3 separate regions of the Homo sapiens genome follow, and all the other regions are linked to region 2. The links come from fine-mapping of genetic effects on gene expression. A gene starts in region 2. Each other region holds a variant in brackets. All regions are shown on one strand. Distances are between the middles of the regions. Region 1 holds the start of LINC02470 (long intergenic non-protein coding RNA 2470). Region 2 holds the start of CLEC12A (C-type lectin domain family 12 member A). Region 3 holds the start of CLEC1B (C-type lectin domain family 1 member B).

Evidence for each region.
Region 1: its variant is fine-mapped to the expression of CLEC12A in whole blood (TOPMed, PIP above 0.99).
Region 3: its variant is fine-mapped to the expression of CLEC12A in monocytes after R848 (Quach 2016, PIP 0.95).

The regions. Positions count from the first base shown.
Region 1 is chr12:9,939,654-9,945,709 of GRCh38, reverse strand. It overlaps LINC02470 (long intergenic non-protein coding RNA 2470), which reads left to right and starts at 2,215. Exons shown (of 5, transcript NR_104634.2): 1 at 2,215-2,580; 2 at 3,138-3,221; 3 at 5,617-5,801. The variant T/C (reference allele first, on the strand shown) is at 3,666.
Region 2 is chr12:9,969,147-9,975,202 of GRCh38, reverse strand. CLEC12A (C-type lectin domain family 12 member A) reads right to left here and starts at 3,794. Exons shown (of 6, transcript NM_138337.6): 1 at 3,516-3,794. The coding sequence starts at 3,606.
Region 3 is chr12:9,996,575-10,002,630 of GRCh38, reverse strand. It overlaps CLEC1B (C-type lectin domain family 1 member B), which reads left to right and starts at 3,510. Exons shown (of 6, transcript NM_016509.4): 1 at 3,510-3,594; 2 at 4,251-4,349; 3 at 5,352-5,471; 4 at 5,631-5,785. The coding sequence starts at 3,531. It also overlaps a transcript of CLEC12A not described here. The variant A/GA (reference allele first, on the strand shown) is at 3,468.

The sequences.
Region 1 (6,056 bases), 29 kb after region 2:
CTAGGAACTATTTTCCACTCATTAAGAAGATAGAGGCAGAGACTGGCATGGTGCAACTTCATGGTAAGGATCACTAAGGATTGCCAGCAGCCACCAGAAGCTGGAAGAGAGGTGTGAAGCAGGTTCTTCCTCAGAGCCTCTTTATTCCAGACTTCTGGCCTCCAGAACTGTGAGATACCACATTTCTACCATTTATAGCTTTGAAATCTGTGCTAATTAATTACTGAAGTCACAAGAATACATTACATAAATAAGTATAAATAATTCTTATGTATAGAATAAGGTCTATACACATACAATATATGCTTATACATGCATATGTATGTGTTTGTATATGTATTTGTGTGTGTATATATATGAAAATTTATATATATATATGAAAATTTATATATATATATATATCTCCAGGCTGGAGTGCAATGGCGGGACGCCGGCTCACTACAACCTCCGCCTCCTGGGTTCAAGCGATTCTCCTGCCTCAGCCTCCTGAGTAGCTGGGATTACAGGCGTCTGCCACCACACCAGGCTAATTTTTGTATTTTTAGTAGAGACGGGGTTTCACCATGTTGGCCAAACTGGTTTCAAACTCCTTGACTTCAGATGCTCTGCCTGCCTCAGCCTCCCAATGTGCTGGGATTACAGGCGTGAGCCACAGTGCCCGGCCGTATATGTATATTTTAAAGAGAATGTCTGTGGGGAGTAGGGTGTGTGTATAAACTTTACTTTGCGTGGTTCTAATATGCATAAACTTCACTTCTCACAGTTTAATTAAATAACTCCCCAACAGCACAGTTTAATTCTTTCAGCGTACTTATCTGTATTTGTATTATATTTACTGTAAGTAATTGTATAAAGTAGAAACTTCCATGCTAGTTTTTCAGTTCACGAATCACTATATACATGTTTGTATTGTGATTAACGACCAACCATGTCACTTTTTTCCAAGTCTGTCAATGATTGATTGGTCACCATGCATCTTTTATCAGTTAATACAGAATAAGATGGAGAGTTATTCTGTATTATTTTGTAAATGTCACATGGGTTTGTCACTGTATGACAAATTCCAAAGGAAATTTGAAACAGGAAGACAAGAAGAGGAAGGTAATTGAAACAGGAAATTGGTTAGTGACACAAAGTGCAGCAAAAAATGATGGCGCTGAAAGGGGAAATAAAATAGAAGAGAAATGAAGTTAGAGAAGCAATAGCTGTTGATAGGGTTATTAATAATTCACCTTTTGAAGAGTCTCTAGATAATGCAACCAGAGGAATTTAGTAAAGGCACACTTATTGACAAAAATAAGGTAAGTGGTTGTGATGAAAAGAATGAAGAGGTCCCAGAGGAAGTTATACGAGCTAAAGTGTTCACATCAAATGAACTCTCAATGTGTTTCCTAACATTTCAAGTGCAAAGAATAGTATATTGGAAGTCTATCCAAATTTAGGAATAAAAAAGCTTGAGAAGGCATCTAAAAGATGCTGGCTCCATATTGTAAGCGATAGAACAACAACAGCACGTACTCAATTCACACTACTCATTTTCTTTTAAGCAAAACACTTGAAACTCAGTGTTTTTAATGTTTTAATTATAGCATACTTTAAAAATATTAATTTTATTGTTGTTTACATTTCCCTATACGTTTATGAGTGACAGTAAAGTAATTTTCAATCAGGAAAAGAGGATAAAGGAAAAATCATACTTTTCCCTATTATTAAAATAGCTTGGTGTGATATCAGCTTGTGCAGTAATTTTTATTATCACACACTACAGTGCAAAATAAAAACTGCCTGTATATGAAACAAGCTTTCATTAGTTCCTATGAAAACATGTAAAAACAATGGCTTTGTTTTCCCACATTTTACTAAACACTCCACAGGTACACTTAGAACACAGTGGTTAAAAATGTAGAACAGAAAAAAGTTATTAAAAACAAGAAAATGGGGGCAGATCCACTTTGTGGCGTGAGAGAATGTGTACACTTTCCAGTGCAGGCAATTTATGTTATATACCTGTGTCCAATCGGAGATTTTTAGGGAGACAATATAAAGAAGCCGGAAAGGGAGGGTATGGGACTCCCCATTCTCTGCTCTGCGTACCAAGCAGGTGGGAGGTGAGGTGCCCATTAGGTTGAATTCTTATCGCTGTGCCCCAGCCAATCGTGGGCTGCGGAAATCATGGGCTGTAGAGTCATCGCTGCCGGGGCAGAGGCACCGTTGGTGCATGCCCGGCTGCCGTTGCTGCCCCTGCCTCGTACAAACGTCAGAGAAGGCACATGACACGCCCCTGGGGGCCATCTGGCCCAAGTCCACCTGCGCGGCTGAGTGGAGGATGCTAGGTTGCTGTGCTGTTTCTCCTACTGTCTTGCTGCCGCACCACCCCTCAGAAAAACCGGGTCGTCAGTTTCCTGCGGTTTGCACTCACCAAATATACTTAGCAATTTGCAATTCACCCGCAGGATTATTCCAGCCTCTGTGATCACACACAGAAGGATGAGCCTTCCTCGTGAGGGTTGGAGATGGAGGGAGAAGGGATGGAGAGTAAGGATGGGACGGAGGTTGTGGAGCAGCAGACCAACACGCCAGGTGGGTGAGGTTGTGTGATTATTCTAGCATCTTTTCTTGATCCTAGCTTGCACCCTTTTAGCATTGGGAGGGAAGGGCAGGGTAGGGGATAGCGACCATAATATAGATCTTAAGTAAAAGCAGTTTTCATTAATAAAACAAAGACTTCAATAATAATGATAATTGGCGATTCCAGCCTCCTCCATCATATTGGAAAAGACAGTATTTCATTAAAAATACTTGGAATTTTCCCTTGGAAAAGGCAGTATTTTATTAAAAGACGCTGCGAGGAAACTGTTGGTTTTCTGTTCTGGAAGCAGGGCAGAAGAATTAGTAACACAGTTCTGCCAAATAGCACAGGAAAGTGGAGCCAAAGCACCTTCGAGGCTCCTGATGTTCAAACGTTAGGTCTTAGTTCCCTTTCTTATTTTTCTAATACATTAATTGCTGAATTGTGAACAGTAGAACACGCGGAAGATAGAGAAAAGAGATAAACATGATGGGTTTTTTGTTGGTTTGCTTGCTTTTTTTCTCTCTGGAACATAAACAATGACATCTGTTTCTCTTTGGTATAATAGAAAGGAAAATAATGATCATCTCAATTTTTATATGTGGAGGCATTGCTTTTCTTCTTTGGGGGATTTTAAGATTTCCCAGAAAATGTAAGTAAACAATTTCTGCTAAAATTATTAAATTAAATTGTTAAAATTATTGTATTATTGATTCAGTTGGATACCAATAACTAGTCTTTCCTTCCTTAATATAGAACAATTTAGAGATAAAAGCATTTTCCAAGACAGTGCATCTAATTGCTCTTCAAACTTAGTCACCTGCTTCACCTTCTAGAATAATCAGTCTTTCAATAAATATGTATCAAGCTTTAGGCACAGTGCTGCCTGCTGATGATATAACAATGAAAAAAAATGGTATTTCTTGCCTGAAAGTAGTTTATCTTTAACTGAATATGGAAGCATGTAAGCAAACAACTGTAACACAAAAGAAATAATTACTAAATAGAACTATGTTGAATTTGAAGCAGGAGAGGAGATTATAAGTTAGCTGCTTGTAGTCAAGGCTTTAATGAAGGGAGAAATATTTGTGCTGAA[T/C]CTTAAACTCAAGTAGGCGTTTATCAAAGATCATCTTAGAACACACATGTCAGAGAATCACACCAGGTATAATTATGATGGAGTTACAAAGAAGTAGGGTGAGGGACTGGCAATTGTATTATAGTTCCCTAGTGCATTAACTCTTTCACTGCCATTCATTAGCAATTTATACCTTGTCCTTCATCTCCATTCTCCTCATGCTCATTCTCATGTCTATACCCTTGCTTCCAACTTGTTCTAATTTTAACAATTTGTAGGAAACTTCCAAATGCTCCCATCACCACACCAGCTTACTTACTCCATCTCTGCCCCTACACTCTGCCTAGACTCCTGGAACTGTAGATGCAGTATTCATGTTCTACAATAGATCCTATATTCTTTCACTGGATCAGTAATATCACCCTAGTAATTCTCCACTCTCCTACATTATCCTTTTTTCATCCTCAACTGAAACATCTCCATCAGCAAATATGACATACTGGTATCTATATCAACCTTGAAAAAATAAACAACAAAAACAACAGAATTTATTAGACCCCACTTATCTTTTAGCAACCAATTTATTGTTTTTCTCCTTGGTACAGCAACCTCTTTAAAACGGCTTTTCAAAATAATTTTTTATCTTTCCTTTTTCTGTTAAATCCACTTGGATCAAGCTTCCACTCTGCTTTTTCCACCAAACTTGTCTTTCAAGTTCACCAATAACTTCCATATTGCTAAATCGACTGGTCCATTCTCCCTCCTCACCTTATTATATAACCTATTTGCAGCTTTTGGCACTCCCTTTTTCTAAAAAAAAAAAAAAATTTCATTTGACTTACATGACGCCATATTCTTGTGGTTTGCTTTCTACTCATTTTACCAACAACCGTGATTCCCTGATTCTCCTTCACTCTGATCTATTTTACGACAAACTATATAATTTCAGACGCATAAGTCCCATAAGAGTAGGTATTTCTGTATGTTATGTAGGCTATTCATAGAGTTACAAAAATGTCTGGCGTGTAGCAGGTGCTCAATCGGTAGTTGTTGACTGCGTAAATGAAAGAATGAATTAATTAGTAAATGAATGAGAAAACTGCCTTTCTGGTGACCCAAGTTTTGAATTAAGTATTTGGTTTTTATATTGGTTATTGATTTGAATTTGACATTTTAAAATAATTTTGAACATGACACATTCAAATAACTTTGATAACTTGATTTTTTCACTTCACTCTCAGGTCTCAACTATATAGAACCATATTGCCAGTTGATCCTTCCCATTGAGGATTTTCCCACTCACAGATTTGAAGATGAACCAGTCATTTATTTTAGTTGTGGATAGGAGGTGCTCTCAGAGCTTGTTTCTTTCAGGATTATACCTTAACAAGGAACTTCCTTTATCTAGTGCAGTAACTTAAGGAGTAAAAGTGGAGAGTAAAAAGGGAAATTTTAGCATTCTTTTTTCTGTGTTTCTTGTTTCATAACGGACAAGGAAACAGCGCCACCTTCTAGAGAAATGCTGTCTTTGAAAGACAATATAGTCTCAGTTAAGTTGATGATAGGAACCAGCTCACTGAAGTTATGAATATAGAAAAATTTGTTTATTTACACTGCAACTTGTTCTAGAGAGCATAGTAAATTTTAGGAAAGAAATAGATGAATAAAGAAAATTCATGTAGTCTAAAAATTAGGAGGGAAAATGGCTGGAAGATACTGAATTTCTGGAAGTTTGTTATTGAGTTTTTAAATTTTTCATAGCTCTCATTCTCCAGTGCTTATTCCTTTCATGTTCTCTTCTCGATATTCAATTTTTTTGAATTGATGTTTAAAGTTAAGTCATTCAAATTGAATATGTAAGTAAAACACATTTTATTAGTCTGAGCTATATAATAATATTTTACTCTGAAGCTCACTCTTTCTTTCTTTGATACTTTCTTTATTCTTTTTCTCTATTACCTGTTAATTTCAGTTGGAATTCCAAGGCACCTTAGAAACAAGACATGCCTAGAAAATTTGACTATGTGTCCACAAGGCTGGAACTGAATCAATAATAATTGCTTCTTTCAATCTGAACATGAAACAACGTGGATCAATGGCTGAGAAAACTGCAGAAGTTATGGATCTCTGGCCAGGCTCAACTCTCAGAATGAAATGGTTAGATTTCTTCTTTGCAATATTAAACTCATTTAATAGCTACTAAAAGACAGGCACACTCCTAGGGTGTAATACATTAGCAAACCAAAGAATCAAAGATCTTTGCCCTTGTGGAGTTTACATGCTAGGGGAAGAGATAAGCAATGAAAAATTATCTTATTAAATATGTAATTTATATATTGTGTTAGAAGTTGGAAAGTTTTATGCAAAAAAATGAAAATTAAGGGAGTGGGTTTACTGCAGGTAAGGTTATAT
Region 2 (6,056 bases):
GCCCTACTCTATTGGTACCAATTTACTGCATTAGTTCATTTTCACACGACTGATAAAGACATACCCACAACTGGGTAATTTATAAGTAAAAAGAGGTTTAATGGACTCATGGTTCCATGTGGCTGGAGAGGCCTCACACTCATGGTGGAAGGTGAAAGGCACATCTCACATGGCCACAGACAAGAGAGAACTTGTGCAGGAAAACTCCTCTTTATAAAACCATCAGATCTCATGAGACTTATTCACTATCACAAGAACAGCATGGGAAAAACCCGCTCCCATGATTCAATTACCTCCCACCATGTCCCTCCTACAGCATGTGGGACTTATGGGAGCTACAATTCAAGATGAGATTTGGGTGGAGACACAGTCAAACCATATCAGTATGTTTTGGTTTGAATTCTGGTTCTGCTGCTTATTGCTTGTGAAACCTCGGGAAAATTATTTAACACCTTTTAACATCTCTGTGTCTGAGTTTCAATATGGTTAAAGCATGGGAGACAGAAAGACTGCAAAGTATCAGACACTAAATAATTTAATATTTATAATGCAATTAGAACAGAACTGGCACAGAGAAAACACTTGAAAATTGTATTTAAATATATATTTATATGTGTATTTAATGAGATGAGGCTGTCTGGAGAGAGAGACAATTTTAGAAGAAAAATAAATATTACTATTTTTGACATTTTAAGTTTAAAATGAGATTAGAACTCCTTATGGAAATGTGAAAGTGGCACATGTATTTTCTAGTCTTGAGATTCAGGGAAAGGTCATACAGAGATATTGGGGAGTCACTCTATTTAAAGTCAAACAACTGAATGAGGTAGATTAGAAGAGTGTACTGAGTGATGCAATAAAACGGGACCCAGGACAGGGCTTCAGAGTATTCCATCTTGTAGAGTTTCATCTAGGAGGAGGAATCAACAAAGAATGAGGAGAGGCAGGCATGGTGACAGGAGAAGCCATGAGGATGTGTCAGGAGGGATGTGCAAAGAAAGCATTTAGAGGACTGTTCAACTTTTTCAATGCTGCAGGGAAGTGAAGTAATGGAAGAGACATGTGACTATTGGGATGAAACAGGCAGGACATCAGTGACCTAAAGCTCAGTCTCTATGGCACCAAGGGGGCAGAAGCCTAATAGAGTTGGTTGAGAACAGAATGAGAGGTGAAGAACTGAGAGTCAGTGGCCAAAGAAAATGCTTTCAAAAGTTGAGTTGTGAAAGGAAACAAAGAAGTTAAATAATAATGGAAAGGCTTAAGTGGTCAAGCAAGGATTGTGTTTTGTTATAAAAGGAGTAGCAGAGTATATTGGTGAGTAGTAGAGTATGTTGGTGCACCAAAAAGGAAAAGCAGAGAAGGAAGAGAGAATAATGACACAGGAGAGAAAGGAAAAAATTACGGAAGTCTGTCTTTGAAAACGACACATGGACTGAAATTCAGAGCAAAATGAGGAGCCGTCCCTTCATAAGTACATACTTATCGTAAATACTATCTGGAAGGAAAGCAGAGTATCAGTAAGGACATGGTAGGATAGACATTTAAATAACAACAAAAAAAAGTGTAGATGGATGCTTTTTTCTTACCAGAGGAAAGGTGAGAGTAACTGGGGTTGAAAATTTGTGTATTTTTCACCAGCAATATTCAACTCTGGGGCAGACTGGGTGGATATTCGGGTTTAACCAGAACTGGAGTTGTTTTTATTTGTTTGTTTTTGGGGTTTTTGTCTTGTTTTGTTTTGATTTGTTTGAGGCAGGATCTTGCTGTGTCACCCAGACTGGAGTACACTCGCCTGATCTTAGCTTACTAGAGCCTCCAACTCCTGGACTCAAGTAATCCTCTTTCCTCAGCCTCCCAAGCAGCTGAGACTATGGGTGCCCAGTTAATTAAAAAAATTTTTTTTTTATAGACATGGCATATCTCTACTTTCCCCAGGCTGGTCTCAAACTTCTGGCCTCAAATAATCCTCCCATCTTGGCCTCTCAAAGTGCTAGGACTATGGGTATGAGCCACTGCACCTAGCCAGAGCTGGAGTTTTTAAGGAAAAATTAACACACATTGAAGAGGAGAAGTGTAAGAGACTAAGAGTAGACATTACATAATACAATGTTATATTACATAATGTAGATTCTAAGCTCGATAATGAGAAAATTAGATGAGATTAAGAACATGAAGAAGACATGGATTCAATATTTCCGTGAATTCAGGGAATTCTTGTGGTGGGAACTTAAGGTGGATTGGCAGGAAAAGAGGTGGGAAAGGGTGTGAGAGGACAAGTAAAGGGCAATTGTTGGTAATATTAGGCTCATGATATGCCCATTCTCTTTCAGTGTATAAAAGAAGAAATATAAACAAGGAAATAAAGACAGAAAATATTGTAAAATTCTTAAACCCTTCTTCTTTCTAAAAAAAAATTTCAGTATTAAAAAAGAAGCCAACAGAATTAATCTGCTATCCTTTCTCAAGATTTACAATGCTCATCATAAATGGATCCAAGATGTAACAGTGAAATTTCTGTTTATAGCAATGCTAGAATATTAAAGATGTTATATTCTGTGTGGGGAGAGGAGAGAGGACAACAACTTAAATAATATGTGAGAATTTTGGCACTCTTCTCTCCTTATTTTTCTGTTTCTATCACCCTTCTTTGTGTTCTCCACTATCACTGTTTAAGTTATTTTTAACTCAAATACACTGATTTAAACTATGGATTCGCTAGGGCAGATTTCACTCCCAAAAGGCTAGGAGCCAGAAGGCAAGAACCATACATAATAGGAAAACTATAGGATTCTGAGTAAGATGAAGAGTAGTTTTGTTTAAGTGAAAGTCAACACAGATGGACCACTTATTTCATGATTTTAATTTGAATTGAAAAATACAAAGTTACTTGATATAATGTGGTTTTGAATATTATGAATATATTATGTCTTCTGATATTTCTTTACCTCTTTTCTTCCTTTATTCCTTAATGATTCATTTCATTTAACTTAACATGTTTTATTTTTTAGTAAGTTAGTAAAAAATCTCCAAAAGAAGTAGGAGAAATTTTAGGGTGATTTATGCTTAGTTTGGTAGATAGTCAAATGAAATCCTATAAAGGTCTCTCTGTCTGACACAAAGCATTTTCTTATAAAAAAAAAAACACACACACACACACACATATGAAATCATGACTTTCCTGAACATGTTTCTTTTTCCATGGCTTCATCTCATAAAGAAATAAAATCTTCATACAACCCAATCATTTGAAAAATTCTGTCCCAATTATATTGAGTGTGATAATAAAAAATTTCAAAAATGTAAAAGATTGATTATTCAATGCAGAGATAAGTGTTTTTACAAAACCCTTTTTTCTAATCATTTTGTTCATACACTTTTTGTTCCTTTGCTTAAACATAAGAGACTTAATTGAAAATTTAAGTTGAATAGTAACTATATCACTAATATTGAAGATGCAAGTCTATAACCACTTCTATTATACAAACTTACAACACATCCATAACTCAAAATCTTACCTTTTTCCCCAAATTTGCCAATTTCTGGGATTTTTTCCATCTCACTGGAGTTCTGGAATTGAAGATCTGCATAAGTAACTTCTTCAGACATTGATGAATATGTAAAGAAATCTTGACAAAGTGTAAAAACACAAAAAGATGAGTGAGTTAACAGAGCTGAATGTTAAACAGGACCTATAATTTTAAACTTCTGTTTATAAACGGAAGCTTAAGCTTACAAGTTTAAACTTCTGTTTATAAACCTACTGTACCAATCACCCATATGTCTGCAAATGAGCCAAATCTCATCTGTGGCTTCAGTTAAGAACATTGAACTGTTGCAACAGATAACATCTTTCTTCCTCATATTTCTTCCTTTTTCTCAATTTCTATATATTTACCAACTACAGAAAGTAGTTTTTGAAATTGTGTTTGGATAACATCATCAGTGTCATGCAAGAGAACACAAATAACTAGCACCACATGGTGCAGACATAGTGTAGGATTTATTGGTGAAAAACTTTCAAGCAGAAAAATAACAGAAAAGATGCAGTTCTCAGACACTCACTAATCTGCAGCTGTGGCCTGGCATAGATATTCCTTTTGTATGATGATGAAGGTCCTGATAGAAGGGTTCTCTTCACTGGGAGACTGAACATACAGAGAGCACTCCCAAGGAGAATGAGACAGTTAGTGTCATTCCGTTGCCATGTTACATAGCTATAGGTTTGCCTAAGAGAGGTAGGGAATGCCTAGTTTCTCTAAATAACAATATATAGGTTGGTGCTAAAGTAATTCTGGTTTTTGCCATTAAAAGCAAAAGTAATTGTGGTTTTTGCCATTAAAAGTTTACAAAATTACTTTAGCGCCAACCTATATATTAAGGGATCTGATGCCCAGAAACCACACCAGAGAGTATGCATACTGATGGCCAAGGTCTGTATACTGAGGGCTCTGGAAACAGCTTTGCAGGCCAGGAAAACTATAATCAGCCTTGCTATCTCTCTACAGACTGACTCAACCATTTGATCTCCTCCTCAGCTAAGCTATCAAAAGTGGGAGGGAAATGAGTCTCCAAAGTCCAGATTTGTGTCTTATTAGTTTGACTCAATAGTCTTAGTATTTTTTATTTCACTTCTTGATCAAGAATGCAAGTGGAAGTGAGGGGGTGGAGAGGACTGTTTTTGAGCATGTTCTCTAATATTCGTTAGTAAATCTTACTTTAAAATTCTTCTTGACATTGCCACATGTAAATCATAAAATGGTTAGGTATTATTATTATACATATGAAAGAGAATGCATAAATATTTTTAAAAATCAATTAAAAACTAATTGCTTTATTATGTCAGGATAGACAGGAAAAACAAAATGCTCCCTTTATAAGAGCTACTAAAAATAAATAGGAAAATATTACAGATAGAAATTAACTAGATATTTGCATAACCAAAATGAACAAAAAAATTTTAAAACTATTGAAGAAAAGAAAAAAATAGAAAAACATGCTGTGGGATTAGAAGCGTCAATACTGTATAAAAAGAAACTAAATTCTCCTAAATGTATCAAAAATTCAATGTCAATTTAATTAAAACAACTGATTTTCTCCTGATAAAGAAAAAGCTATTGAATACATTTGAAAATATTACCATGAAAATATTGGCAGCCACATTTAAAGGAAAATATATTCAAAACATGATTACTTCATCCTAAGTACTTTACTAATGTTGCTTTTATCTTTACAACTCTCTAAACCAGGTGCTATTATTATCACCCTTATTTTACAGATGCGGAAGTGAGTTGCAAAGTGGTTAAGTTTGTATCCAACATCACACAGTTGGTGAGTGGTAGAGTTGAGACCATCAAAGTCTCTGGTTGCCTTGTTCAAATATGTGCACAGGCTATAAGGCCTCTCCTGGTGGGAAAGAGTAGCCCTCTATTTTTCCTAGGTGGATCAAATATTTGCATATAAATATTTGTTTATAAATATCTCTTTGTTTGTGAAAGGATGGAAACCGGCCACCACACAGGCAGAGTCCTGTTCTGTGTTCTATTGCTCTGCTGTCTCATGTGGAACGTTGTTTCATCAATCAACACTAGAAGATGAAGCGTATATGACGAACTGTAAAGGGAAACAAATGAAAAATCTCAAAGTCCTGTTTGCAAGGTACTCTATTTTGTTGAAAATATTTGAATAAGTATTACTTCATACAAAATCCTTGGTTTAGAGCCAGCTAAAACATTTATATCCACAAGAATAAGCTGAGCTCTGAGATGACTACATGGTTTGCCCTTCACAGCCTATATCAGTTTTTTAAAAATTTTGTTATTGATACAAAATAGTTGTATGTATTTTGGAGGTACATGTGATATTTTGAAACCTGTATACAATGTGTAATGACCAAATCAGGGTAATAAGAATATTCATTCCGTCAAACACTTACCTTTTCCTTCTGTTGGGAATAGTACATTTCTTCTCTTTTAGCTATTTTGAAATATACAATAAATTATTGTCAACTATAGTTTTCCCACTGTACTATCAAATACTAGAATTTGTTCCTTCTATCT
Region 3 (6,056 bases), 27 kb before region 2:
CTCTATTAAAAATACAAAAAATTAGCCGGCCGTGGTGGCGGGCGCCTGTAGTCCCAACTACTTGGGAGGCTGTGGCAGGAGAATGGGGTGAACCCGGGAGGCGGAGCTTGCAGTGAGCCGAGATCGCGCCACTGCACTCCAGCCTGGGCGACAGAGCGAGACTCCGTCTCAAAAAAAAAAAAAAAAAAAACATTACCCAACTTGTAAATTTTTTTAAAGAAGTTCACATAGCTAAAATCTAACACTCTGCTTCATAAAGACTAACCTCATGATTTTTCTCCATGAATACTCAGCACCAATTTCAGTGTCTGAAACATAATTAACATTCATTAAATATTTCCTTTAAAACAGACAATTTAGAGTGTTCTTAATCTGTAAAATATTGAATGAATAAAAGGTTTTATTTTAAATTCAATTTCATCAGGAAATTTGGAATAAAGAATTTTTTTAGGCCAGGCGCGGTAGCTAAAGCCTGTAATCCCAGCACTTTGGGAGGCCGAGGCGGGTGGATCACGAGGTCAGGAGATCAAGACCATCCTGACTAACACGGTGAAACCGCGTCTCTACTAAAAATACAAAAAAAATTAGCCAGGCGTGGTGGTGGGCGCCTGTACTCCCAGCTACTCGGGAGGCTGAGGCAGGAGAACGGCGTGAACCCAGGAGGCGGAGCTTGCAGTGAGCCAAGATGGCGCCACTGCACTCCAGCCTGGACGACAGAGCAAGACTCAGTCTCAAAAAAAAAAAAAAAAGATTTTGTTTAGCTGTATATAGTTTCCTTAGTGAAGAAAAGGAGAAGAGAATAAGATATTCAAGCAAGGTTAAAATATTGAAGCAGAAATAAAATAAGCTAATAACGGGACTTGGAGGGTGATTAAAAGGTAACTAGCAAAGACTCTGGATTTGGGAAAAGGAAAAGAAGCATTTGTGATATCTATCTCTCTTTCCTGCAGTTCTCTGCTTAATTTTTGCTGAGTAACTCAACTTACATTTATAGAATGTGGGGAGGGAGCAAAATTAGAACTCAATGTTATCAAGGGCTAGTTCCTTTGGCCCTGAGAGTCTCTGTCTTCGCTCAGCTTGCTTCTAACACCACAAAGTCATGTGAGGGGGGATACACAGAAAGGCAAACGTATATTTTGTGGAACACAGATAAGATATAAGACTCTCAGACTGTGGCTGGAATGATCAAAGATCCAAAAAGCAAGGTTAAATTACAATGAGAAAGAGGAATGAAGCAATGGAAAGTCCAGAGCCTGAGATATAGGAAAGGAATATCTTCAAAGGCGGAGTGTTAACCTACTTCAGGCATTAAATATGCAGTTCTAAGCATTAAAGGATCAAGAACTAATCCTGGCACATTCCTGGTGGTTTACAAAAATACATGGGACATGTTTTATAATGAAATCAGCTGCTCAAGTCCTAGAGAATGTGGAAACCTCAACAAAGCAATCTAATTGTTCTCTTTAATACCATCTTAAAGTTTTTGTTAATAAACAAAAAATGTTTACAATAATTTAAAAATTGTCTCAATGTCCTTGGATCTTACCTTTACATATCTGATTTAATGTAACAAATTAAGTTTTCATATGTACCTGTTTGGTACCTAAGAGAACAGAGTAAAGCTTTATTGGAAAAGTGTCATTTGTACTATAACCTCCACACATTTTCTTTTCTCTCTGTTACTTTGTCACAGTTATTTATTCGATTATTTTTTAGTGTTTCTGTATATTTTAGGTAACAAAACACTGAAGGAAAGCAGTGACCAAAAGAACGTGAAAGACAGGGGTTACTGTGACAGAATAGCCTCAGGACTTGCTGATGAGTAGATGTAGAAAGGAAGGAAGAGAGGGAGGATCAAACCCCATTCCAACCCCAATCTTCCAGAAAAGCCTGAGGATAAATGATGGGAGAGCGAAGAATCCCTTTTAGCTGAAACAGAAGTTATGAGAACAGAAGCAGTGGTAGATGAATGGTAAGTGACTGAATTTACCCAGCTTATGATTGGGAACCCCTGAATATTTTAACTGAGATAAGAAACACAGCAACAAAAATGGTGTTGGGATTTAATGTTTTTTAAAAATTTTTAGTCTTTTCTTAAAATTTGGCATTTATTTCAAATGTGTTTTTTTTTAATTAAGAATTAGTTTTGGTAAAAATATTTGAATCATACTAAGTTTGGCTTTCCAAAATCAGGGAATGTCTTTTATACGTGTTATGCTTATTCTTCACCTCATTCTCAAAATAATTTGAAGAGTATAGAGAAAGAAATTTAGAATGAAAGATAATTTTAAGTGAATTGACAAGAAATTCAGAGTGAAGGAGATAGCAGGGGAGAAAAAATCTACGGGCTATGCCAAAGGGCATGTTAATAAACAAAATATCTGCTACTGCAGCCCACATAATCACTATATTGAAAAGTCTAACACTCTGCTAAGTAAAGAAAAATAGAATTCAAATTATTTATAAGGTAAATGCCTACTACTTAAAGCTTTGCTAGTCATGGTGATTTAACAAAAATAAAAATCTGCCATAAAACTATGTAAGAGTTACCCTATGGCAAAATAGACAACATCCTCCCCAATATTCCTATAATAAATGCATCAGCTAGCTTTGTATGGCTGTTCTTACAACTACTTTCAGTGCAAGCTAAAATAATGTAAAAGCCCATTTCATAAAGTTAAGTGTGTGCAATACATATTATATTGTGATGAAAAGGTGCTAGGAACCATTCAGTCTCAAATATTCATCTAAGCACAGCTGTACTTGAAATGAAGTGATTTCATCAAATCAAAATTCTTCCATTCCAGGAAACTCACTTTAAAGCACAAACACTACTAAAGAACAATGCAGCAAGTCACCAACTCTGTATTATTTTACTTGATTTGATAGTTTTCCTTCAATACCTAAATCTAAGCAATATCAGGCCTGCCTCATGTGGATCCTTCAAATAAAAAAAAGTATGAAATATGCAAGAAGTTGTGTAAATTCTAGGTCATAATCAGGAATGATCTCTTCCAACACAAGACTATGAAACAGCTAATTTAGCCCCTATCAGATCCAATTATATTACACTTGCTTCTCACAATGAGATAAACTATATATCTGCTGGTGAGCTATATCCATGAATTTTCAGCAGAAATCTCTCATTTGAGCAATGTAATTTAGACTAAGCTAGGGCTAAGATAAAGCATGAACTTTTGTTCTTAGAAAGGATGCACATGATGGAATGTCCCTTTATTTAGTGTTGAAGATAAAAAAAAAGCAGGAAGCAAATACCTTATCTACTCCTTTACCACAAGTTATTATTATTTTTGTGTTTTTGTGTTCAAGGTCCATGTATCTCTGAGCAGCTATGAAGAAGCTTCCTGGAAAACAATAAGCAAAGGAAAACAAATGTGTCCCATCTCACATGGTTCTACCCTACTAAAGACAGGAAGATCATAAACTGACAGATACTGAAATTGTAA[A/GA]GTTGGAAACTACATTTTGCAAAGTCATTGAACTCTGAGCTCAGTTGCAGTACTCGGGAAGCCATGCAGGATGAAGATGGATACATCACCTTAAATATTAAAACTCGGAAACCAGCTCTCATCTCCGGTAAGAATGCTCAGAGCCAATAATTTGGAAATTAATTTAAAAAATGAGTTGATTCAATTCTTTCTTTTTCTACTATTGATAATATATATAGTTTAATTTCTTTTTCTTGAATGATGTTAATGCTCTAAAGCATTTGAGTAGTGTTTTCATAAGCTCATACAGACCTATTTAGATTACAAACATCCAATATATGTGCAGGGAAAATTGCATTAAGATTCTGAGCGTTTAATACTCGAGGGCATAGAAGTCAAGGGGATAACGGAAAAGAGTGGAAATTTCATTTTCTATATGTGAGCAAATGAGTGTGATTCTTCATTTGCTGTTTATTAAAGCAATTATTTATGGCATGGGTGAGCATAAAACAAAACAAAACAAAACAAAACAAAACAAAAAATACAAACACATCAGGCCTTAACAGCAAGTAATATTTCAGCTTGGAGAGGTAAAGTGCATTGGAGATGAGAATGGATGTATGGTATAGGGGTGGGCCATGCCTATTGTTGATGATCATGAGGAGAACACAGGTGAGATCTGCCAGCAAAGCTCTTTCTATTACTTGGAGGACCCTGAGAAGGCAGGGGCAGGGGCAGGGGTGAGCCTTCCCCATAGCTAACCCATACTGCCTGCTCCTTGATGTCTTTATTATATGCCTACAGTTGGCTCTGCATCCTCCTCCTGGTGGCGTGTGATGGCTTTGATTCTGCTGATCCTGTGCGTGGGGATGGTTGTCGGGCTGGTGGCTCTGGGGATTTGGTGTAAGTGTTGACTCTGCCAGAAATTTGACTGGAGGAAGGTAATACTGAAGGGTCATGGCATATCCCACTAAGCTTCTCAATGGTCGCTATTTGTCTGTTTATCACTTCTACAGTTGTCCTACAGATAGTTGCCAAGAGAATCTCAATAAAGGAGAACACTGACTGTTTCCTTGTGATTAAAATAAGATTTTAAGATTTTAACTAATGAAAAGTTATTTTTAAGAATGTACTACTGGCCTTTAAGACCCTCCTCAGTGTGGATCCAAACTATTTTTAAAAACTTTTTCATCCCTTTTCCTATCTTGCATTCCTAAGAACCAGCCAAACTGGAGTTTTTCAATTTCATATATAAATTCCATGTTCCCTTGTCTGAAATTTTTCTCATTCTATTCTCTCTACCTAAAATTTTCTGTTTCTCATTTTGTTTACTAAGTTACTGTGCATTTCTTCTTTCTGTAATTCTCATGGCCCTCCAATAGCACATTGAAGTCTGTGTAGTTGTTGCTTGTTTGTGTATTTGTTGATTTTTTTAAAAGATGTTAGAATCTAACATTTATCCTCTTGTATTTCTTTATTATTTACCTGAATATCACAAGTACTTTAAGCATAACAAGAAATCAGTATGTATTTTTAAATGAATGAATAGTTTGGCATCACAGAAAGAACAGAAAATAAGAGGTCATTCACCTCTATAACTCAGCTGAGAAGCTTGTATTCAAGCAAATGAATACAGGCTCTGGGGATGTTATCGATGTTGGGATTTTTTATTTGTGATTGTCTCCTTCAAACAGTTCACTTATTAACCCTCAGGCGTCAGTTCTGTGTATTTCTTAATTTGTTCTTTATAGCCCCTCCACACTTTTCAACATTCATTTAATCATGTGTATCTAGTAAACTCCTCATATATTGGCAAAGTTAAGGAAATGAAAATTCAATGACAGACCTTTGCATCATTTCTATGGTTCTAATTACAAATTATTATTATTTACTTTTTAAACCTAGCTGTCATGCAGCGCAATTACCTACAAGGTGAGAATGAAAATCGCACAGGAACTCTGCAACAATTAGCAAAGCGCTTCTGTCAATATGTGGTAAAACAATCAGAACTAAAGGGCACTTTCAGTAAGTATTGTTTTTTTAACCTCTTCATCTCTCCAACCCCTGGAGCATTTCTCTGATGGCAACTGAAGGGAGTTTGAGATCTGCAGAAAACATTGAATGTGAAGAAAATGTAAGCCCAATTTAGAAAAAATACACCATTCCTGTGCTTGGTTTCTCCAGAAGGTCATAAATGCAGCCCCTGTGACACAAACTGGAGATATTATGGAGATAGCTGCTATGGGTTCTTCAGGCACAACTTAACATGGGAAGAGAGTAAGCAGTACTGCACTGACATGAATGCTACTCTCCTGAAGATTGACAACCGGAACATTGTGGTAAGAAGATTCTTATGTCAAATATTTTGGAGGCAAGGAAGAGAAACCTCAAATGTAACACTTGACCTTTTTTTGTTTTTTACATTTTTCTTAACATCTTTCAGTTTGTACTAATCTAAGACCCTTGTGAAACCTAGTAAGAATTACAGAACCCAGATATTCAATCCACTCATAATATTCTACAACACTGATAGAGTTGATCAGTCAAATTGACTTGTCCCTTCCTGACAGCTCAGGTACATAGTGGGTCACACATGAAGAGTCAGCCCAG